Linked DNA regions of Homo sapiens: region 1 is linked to region 2. The links come from fine-mapping of genetic effects on gene expression. A gene starts in region 2. The other region holds a variant in brackets. All regions are shown on one strand. Distances are between the middles of the regions.

Region 1 (4,384 bases), 53 kb before region 2:
GGGCCTACTCTCTCTGTCTCACCTCTCACCTCTCTTGCCCTTTGCATTCGGCTCCAGCCAAACTGGTTTTTCTGTTCCTTGAATGTGCAAGTTCTTCTTGCTCAGAGCCTTTGCATTTGCTGTTCCCTCTACCTGGAATGCTTTTCCACCTGATCTTCCTTGTCATTTTGTCTCAGCTTATTTTATTTATTTATTTTTTGAGACGGAGCTTCGCTCTGTCACCCAGGCTGGAGTGCAGTGGTATGATCTCGGCTCACTGTAAACTCTACCTCCAGAGTACAAGCAATTCTCCTACTTCAGTCTTCTGAGTAGCTGGGATTACAGGCGTGCACCACCACGCCCAGCTAATTTTGTATTTTTAGTAGTGATGGGGTTTCACATGTTGGCCAGGCTGGTCTCGAACTCCTGACCTCAAGTGATCTGTCCGCCTCAGCCTCCCAAAGTGCTGGGATTACAGGCTCGAGCCACCACGCCCAGCATTTTGTCTCAGTTTAAATGGCGTTTTTTCAGAGAGGCCTTCCCTGCCTGCCTATCTATTAATCGCTCTCAATCATATCAGCCTGGTTTATTTTCTTTATAGATTTTATTACTATTGAATATTTTCTTTCTTGTTTGTTGTCTGTCCCCGTGAGAGCTGGAATTTTGTTCAACACTGTGTCCTTAGTGCCTAGAACCATGCCTGGCACACAGTAGGTACTGACTAAATATTTACTGAGTGATTGAACTGGTTTGGAGTCCTTGAATGTCCCTGGGCAGCAGGCGATCCCTATGCCAACCCAGATCCTTTATCTCCTCCTGTACCATGTTAGCCTCAGTTCAATTGACCCTAAACACAGCTCTGACCGGCCGGGTACAGTGGTTCATGCCTGTAATCCCAGCACTTTGGGAGGCTGAGGCAGGTGGATCACCTGAGTTCAGGAGTTCCAGACCAGCTTGACCAAAACAGTGAAACCCCATCTCTACTAAAATTACAAAATTAGCCGGGTGTGGAAGCAGGTGCCTATAATCCCAGCTACTTGGGAGGCTGAGGCAGGAGAATCGCTTGAACCCAGGAGGTGGAGGTTGCAGTGAGCTGAGATCGCACCATTGCACTCCAGCCTGGGCAACAAGAGTGAAACTCTGTCTCTAAATAAATAAATAAATACAGCCTTGACCTGGGCTGGTGGAGGAGAAGGTGCAGTCACTGGCCCTGAATCCAGGGCCTTCCCCACTCAGCCTGTCCCTCTTTAATACATTGATTTCCCTTTTCCTCTAAAACATATGGTGCACACAACCCTCAAACGTTAAGAGTGATGTCAGCAGATGTGCAGCGTGGGATGGGCTCTGGCAGCCTCCTCGAGTGCTCATCACCGGGCTTGAGACATGGAGAGAGCCAAATCCCCAAATCCCTTCCCACTTTCACTCCTGGTTTTGTTGTTGTTTGTCTTTTGAGGCAGAGTCTGGCTCTGCCTATTAAGCTGGAGTGCGGAGGCACAATCTTGGCTCACTGCAGTCTTGACCTCCTGGGCTCAAGCAATCCTCCCACCTCAGCCTCCTGAGTAGCTGGGACTATAGGCATGCACCACCACGGCTGATTAATGTTTGTAATTTTTTTTTTTTGTAGAGATGAGGTCTCACTGTGTTACTCAGGCTGGTCTCCATCTCCTGGCCTCAAGGAATCCTCCCACCTCGGCCTCTGAAAGTGCTGGGATTACAGGCATGAGCCACTGCGCCCGGCCTCATCCCTGGCTTTGAAGAGAGAAGGAGAGGCTTCCCAGCACTCAGAGGGACAGGAAGGAAGTGCCTTTCCAGCCTCAGTTGTGTACCCAGCACAGCAATACTGGTAAGAAATCAAGATAGCAAAGTCCTGCTTCTGCCTTTTTCTAGAACAGATGTCAGCAAGCTGTTCCTGTAAAGGAATCAGGATAGCAAAGTCCTGCTTCTGCCTTTTTCTAGAACAAA[T/C]GTCAGCAAGCTGTTCCTGAAAAGGCCAAAGTGTACATATTTTAGGCTTTCCACACCCTGTGGTCTCTATCGCAGCTGCTCAGCCCTACACTTTAGCATGAAAGCAGCCATAAACAATATCTAACGAACAGGCTGGGAGCTGGAGTTAGCACACAGGCCATAGTTTACCAACCCCTGTTCCAGAGGAAATGAAAAATCTCTTTCTGGGCTAGGCATGGTGGCTCATGCCTATAATCTCAGTACTTTGGGAGGCTGAGGCAGGAGGATTGCTTAAGCCCAGGAGCTCGAGGCTGTAGTGAGCTATGATTGTGCCACTGAACTCCAGTCTGGGTGACACAGCAAGATCCTGTCTCTAAAAAAAAAAAACACTTTTTGAACCTCAGTTTCCACATCTGTAAAATGGGATGATCTAGTACTTACCTACCTCCCTGGGTGGCAGTGAGGATTTAAAGTGATAAAGTATACAAAGTGTGGAACCTAGTACTTGGTGGCGGGGTGGGGCGCTCTCACTTTGTTGCCCAGGCTGGTCTAGAATTCCTGGGCTCGAGCGATCCTCTCGCCTTGGCCTTTCAAAGTTCTGGGATTACAGGCATGAGTCACTGTGCCTGGCCTGATTATTAGTATTAATAGTTGTCATAGTTGCTTAACAAACAGAAAGTGCTTTTTTGAGACAGGGTCTCACTCTGTTACCCAGGCTGGAAGGCAGTGGCACGATCATGGCTCACTGCAGCCTCATCCTCCCTGGGCTCAGGTAATCCTCCCATCTCAGCCTCCCGAGTAGCTGGAACTATAGGCATGTACCACCATGCTCAGCTAACTTTTAAAATTTTTTTGTAGAGATAGAATCTCACTGTGTAGACCAAGCTGATCTCAAACTCCTGGCCTCAAGCGATCTGCCTGCCTCGGCCTCCCTAAGTGTTGGGATTACACGCGTGAACCACCACACTTGGCCAGAAAGTGCTTCCACATATTAACTCACTTACACTTCATAACATCCTACAAGATAGGTATCCTCACCCCCAGTTTACAGATAAGGAAACTGAGGCCCAGCAGTTATAAGCTCAAGTCAGTCTGGCCCCAGAGCCTATGCTTGTAACTAGGTTTCTCTCTCTGTCTCTCTCTTTTTCATTATCCCATGTAACTCTCACAGCAGTGCCTTGAGATAGCTATTATTGGCCCTGTTTTGCAGATTTGGAAACTGAGGTTCAGTACGAGGAAATAACTGGTCCAAGGAAGTAAACACGGGCTCCACTGACCACAGGAGGCCAAGCTGGATTGCTGCCCAACATGTCAACATGCACTGCTCTGGCCCCCTCCTCCCTCGCTGTGCCTCCAGCTGTGTTTTCTTTGGATCTCTGCATGGCTTGGAGAAGCTGCGTCAGCCCATCTCCTCTCCTGCCCAGTCCCCACCCCCAACGCCCACCCCAGCTACCCCTCAGGGAGTGACCCCCTTCTCCTCACTCTGCCTGAGCATATGAGCACTGCAGCTCATGCGCCTGTGTTGGTCAGCATGGGTGCACCTGGGGACATGTGACAGGGGACCCAGCTGGAATGAGAGGAGGATTATCTGAGGAGGACAAATCTCAGGCCAGGAAGACCCCGATTACATCTCTCCAGACAGGCGAAATGATCATCTGTTTCCAGAATGCAACTGGACAAAACAGTCCGCGTGAGGGCTGGACATTTACCAAATGGGTAAAAGGAATCTAAAAGGGCTGGGGCTTGCTGAGTTCAGCCAGGCCAAAGCTGTGGACTGACTTTCCGTGATTTCTAAAGCTGGGAGATCTGTTGTTTTCTTCTTTCTTTCCCATTTCCTCCTTGAAGGCCAGTCCATTTTCTGTGTGAAGAACAGGCCACTTGGTGTCTGAAGTCACCTCCAGATTAGAAACTCAAGGATTCTAAGGTTCCTTATGAGGTGTTGCTTTCCCTGGGTCCTCGGTCCTAGGGCATTGTATCCCCACACCTGGTGCCTCTCCATCAGGGCTCGGATGTCAGCCTTGGGCAGCTCACTCTCTCTCTGACTTCCCTTTTCTTTTCTTCTTCATATCCCACCCTTCTTCCCAGTTTCTATGCCTCTGTCAGTCTGCTAGCTGACTCTGACTCATGGGGACCTCTTTCTGTGGTCCTCTAAGCCTCCTAACCGTCTGTGCTTTCCTTATACTCCACGTGGGCTTTCCAGCCTCTACTTGTTTTGAGGAAGAGGTGGAGGATCCATAGCAGCTCTGTCTAGATGTTTGGATTTCATAAGCCAGTCACAACATTTCAAAGTAAGTGAAGGGAGGGGGCCCCAAAGGAAGGGATTTTTTCCTTTGATAATAAGGATAGGCCACCATCTTCAGCCTAAGCTTGTCCCTTTTCTGCAGGGCTTGCTGAAATGTTGCAAGAAGTGGTCAACATAATGCAACTCGAATTTTTCCAGGTGTCCTAATACTGCAGGAGTCCC
Region 2 (4,368 bases):
TGGGTATGGGGCAGGGCAGCCTGCCAGCTCCCACTTGCTAGACAGAGCTCTCAGGCCCAAGGACATGGTCAGTGGAGCCACTCATGCCCTCAGCCCCACGGAGGACCAGTGAGAGAGGCCCTCCAGTCACAGAGTCCCCCAGGAAAAAGTCACAGGGTCCCTGGATCTCATCAGGGAATACACAAAAATAAGAGAAGGGACTCCTAAGCCACAGCCAGGGGGAGCTATTTTCTTTGGGCTTTTGCATAAATCGTTCCCTCTGCCTGAAACTCTTCCCAGCATCACCCTATGGCTAAATCTTACCCAGCCTTCTCACCACCATTTAGCTGGTACCTCTTCTAGGAAGTCAATGCTGGCTTTGAGGCCAAGTCAGGACTTCTTCATCCTCAGTGCTGCAGCTGCCTGTGTCCCCAGCACCACACCACTGTGGGGTTCATTGTGCCTTTTAACAGCCTCCATGCCAGACTGTGCCCTCCACAAGGGCCTGGACCAAACTTGTCTTTTCCTCTGCTGTATTTCCAGGGCCCAGCACACGCTGAGCACATGGTAGGCCCCCATCTCTGCTGAACTAATGAAACCCCAGGACCCCAAAGTGATGACCACTGCTGTGTACTTCTATCACGTGATATACTGAATATGACCATTATCTTGCATATAAGAATGGCTAATACTTACTGAGTGCTTACAATGTGCTGAGCACTGTTTTAATTATTAGCTTTGCATATGTTAATTCATTTCATCCTCACAAAAACTCTATGAGGCAGGTATATTTACCATTCCCACTTTACAGACGAGGAAACAGAGCTAGATGTTGGGTAGCTTGCTCAAGATCACACGGCTAGGAAGTGGCACAGCCAGGAGGAGATGGTTTACAAAATGTTTGCAAGAGGATGTCTGGTGGGAGCTCACAATCAAGCACCCTTGAAAGCAAGTATTTCTGCTTTACTTTAGCCGGGATACTGAGGCTCAAAGAGGTCTCCCAGTAAACTGGAGGCAGGACCCAGTCTTAACCCAGGGCACTTGCGTTTTTTTTTTTTTTTTTGTAGAGATGAGGTCTCGCTATTTGCCCAAGCTGGTCTCCAACTCCTGGGCTCAAGTGATCCTCCCACCTCAGCCTTCCAAAGTGCTGGGATTACAGGCGATGAGCTACCACTCCTGGCCTAGACATCTGCCTCTCAAAGTGTGAGGACTGTGGGTAGTATAGTAGCTAAGACCACAGCCTAGATTTGAATCCTGGCTCTGTCTGCACTCTGTACCTCGGCATCCTTTTCTATAAGATGTGGGAAAAAATGGTATGTGTCTTAGAAGGTATGAAGCTCAAATGAGAAAATCCATTTTAGGGGTTTGGCTTGGTGCCTGGCTCACAGTAAACCAGAAACACCAAGTATTAGCTACAAACAAGCCTTGTTTCCTCTTGGCTGTCAGGCACTGCTGCTCGCGGTCCTTGCCTCCACCCACGCCGTCCAGCCGGGTCCATACCTGAGAACGGCTGCCGCGGTCCGAGCTTTGCCCCACGCCAGAGTCATCGGCCTCTGCCTGCCCCGGGGCGGCCGCGGCGTCGCTGCTGTCGGCGGACACGGCTTCTGAGGTGCCCACACCCAGGCCGCTCTCAGAGGGCTCCTCGGGCCGGCCAGGCCCAGGGGCCGCGTCGCTGCTGCTCTCCACCTCGTTCTCCTCCATCTGATCGGCGGGCTGCCTGACAGCGGGGCGTAGGGTCTGGGAACTTCACTCTGAGAAGAGAGGTGACCGTGGCTGGAACAAGTGGGCCATCTCCCCAGCCCCGGCAACCACGGCCACCCATTTGCACCCCTGCGCCCATTTTGCAGATGCGAAGATTGAGTCTCCGACGGGGCGGAGCTTCCTGGTGTATTGCGAGGGGAGCTCGGGAAAAACTTGACGGAGAAGCTGTGCTTCCCAGGCTAAGGCCCTTCCCGGGAGGGTGGTCAATGGCTGGTAATCTTGACCCTTTCCCTCGCCCCCACGATTCTCGTGGAGCGTTCCGCTCTGTGAGCCCCATCCGGGCCCAGTGGTTCAGCCCTTCGGCCCCCGCGTCCCCCCGGGTTGCAGGGCCGGTGGTACAGCCCGCTGGCCCCCTGGGTCAGTGGTTCGCTCCCCCCCGGTTCCCCTGCGGAGGCGGCTGACAGCGACGGTCTCGGGGCCTGGCGATTTGGGGCTGTCCCCGGCGCTGCCTGTGCTCCAGGCCCGACGCCATCTTGTGGTGGCGCCGGGTTTCCGCTCAGGCAAGTGCGAGAGCGACTAAAGGGCCTGGGACCCCGGGGCCCTGTTCGGACAGCCCCGCCGGCCTGGGACCTCGCCTCCGGGTATCCCCGCAGTGTGACCTCACTCCACGGCAGGGTACGGTGGGGCCGCCTAACTCTACCCGAAGCTCACCCGAGGCTTTCGTAGCCACGTTCCTCTCTGACTCCGGCATCGACGAGGTCGCCATCCTCTTTCCTCCGCTGCGGAGGAACCCATCGGCCTATTGTAGGCCGGAACTACTTCCCCCGCTGGCCCCGGGAAAGACACATTTTCAGTGTTCCGGAAGGTCGCTCCGAGGCCTCAAAACCATAATCGGGTCTCAACAGACTCTGGGACTTTATACGTCGCCCGGTGTTTGGCACTGAGCCCACTATGGTTTGGGGACTACTTTATCTCGGCGGAGTGTTACGTAGGAAGTGGTTGTGACGTCATTCTGGTCCCTTCCCTAGGCCGCAGGGTTGGGCGCGGCGAATGCGCGCCCCGCTCTCTTGGGGCGTGGCTCCCAGTGGGGGGCGTGGCTCCCGGTGGCTTGGCCGCGCCCCTCCTACAACAGCCCGGAAGAGCGTGTGGCCGCGGGCGACTTTGGCTTGGCCAAAGAGGAATTCATGTTGTCAGTCATTTTACCTGACTCATTACTTATTACTTAGCGCGCTGCTGCAACCCAATCGAGCTCTGCCCGTTAGGTTTGATGTGTTTTGTTGGGAAGGGAATGTATAATTATTGTACAGATAGGGAAACTGAGGTCTGGGTATGGGAAGGGCTGGTCCAAAATCACATCCAATAAAGGGACTCAGGAGCTAAGTACGGATGGCAGGAGTCGGGGAAATGGAAAGAAGTTAATGCTTGTCCCTTAGGTTTGTATACATATTTGTTAACATTAATAGAGCTGAGGCCGGGCGCTGTGAGTCACGCCTGTAATTCCAACACTTTGGGACGCCAAGGCAGGAGAATCGCTTGATCCCAGGAGTTCCAAACCAGCCTGGGCAAAAGAGCGAGACCCCATCTCTACAAAAAAAAGAAAAAAAAGAAAAATTAGCCAGGCATGGTGGCGCGTGCCTATAATCCCAGTTGCTCGGGAGGCTGAGGTGGGAGGATCGCTTGAGTCTGGGAGGTTGAGGCTGCAGCGAACCGTGATCACACCACTGCACTTCAGCCTGGGCGACAGAGCGAGACCCTCTTTCAAAAAATAAATAAATACAAGTCAACTACCTATCCTTTAAAAGTGGAGAAAGAAAAAAAATTTTAATTAAAAGTCAGCTGCCCTTAAGGTATGTCCTTCCTCCGGAAATGTCACCTTCTGTTTTAAGACTTTTAGCAGTTTGCAGTGGAAGAGCACAAGAGGGAGTAAGGCGCTCTGGTTTTTGTCCCTAAGTCTCTGTAGTTCCATAGGCTATTTTCCTTAATTGAAAGATACAAATTTTGGGGGAAAAAAATCTCAAAAAAACTCCTAAGCAGGCTGGGCGCGGTGGCTCACGCCTGTAATCTCAGCACTTTGGGAAGCTGAGTCGGGCGGATCACCTGAGGTTGGGAGTTTGAGACCAGCCTGATCAACATGGAGAAACCCCATCTGTACGAAAAATACAAAAGCAGCTGGGCGTGGTGGCGCATGCCGTAATCCCAGCTATTCAGGAGGCTGAGCCAGGACAATAGCTTGAACCCGGGAGGCAGAGGTTGCGGTGAGCCGAGATCACGCCATTGCCTTCCAGCCTGGGGAACAACAGCGGAAACTCTTGTCTCAAACAAACAAACAAAAAGTCCTAAGGAGAAGACCTATTAATAAGGAGAAAAGGTCCGGGCTCGGTGGGTCACACCTGTAATAACCAGCACTTTGGGAGGCTGAGGCCGGTGGATCACTTGAGGTCAGGAGTTCGAGACCAGCCTGGCCAACATGGTGAAACTGTCTCTACTAAAAATACAAAATTTCACTGGGTGTGGTGGCGCGCGCCTGTAGTCCCAGCTACTCGAGAGGCTGAGGCAGGAGAATCGCTTGAAGCCCAGAGGCGGAGGTTGCCGAGATTGTGCCATTGCGACAAGAGAGAAACTCCGCTTCAAAAAATAAATAAATAAATAAAAATAAAAAGGACAAAGGGTGCTTTGAGCTGTTATTTG

Evidence for each region. PIP is the estimated chance that this variant, and not a neighbour inherited with it, causes the effect.
Region 1: its variant is fine-mapped to the expression of ZNF335 in whole blood (TOPMed, PIP above 0.99).

Annotation. Positions count from the first base shown.
Region 1 is chr20:45,916,596-45,920,979 of GRCh38, forward strand. No RefSeq gene overlaps it. Among named protein-coding and RNA genes, the nearest start is that of PLTP, 6.6 kb to the left of the region's middle. The variant T/C (reference allele first, on the strand shown) is at 1,942.
Region 2 is chr20:45,969,731-45,974,098 of GRCh38, forward strand. It overlaps ZNF335 (zinc finger protein 335), which reads right to left and starts at 2,473. Exons shown (of 28, transcript NM_022095.4): 1 at 2,392-2,473; 2 at 1,480-1,730. The coding sequence starts at 1,680. RefSeq lists a silencer at 1,985-2,104 and an enhancer at 2,875-3,094.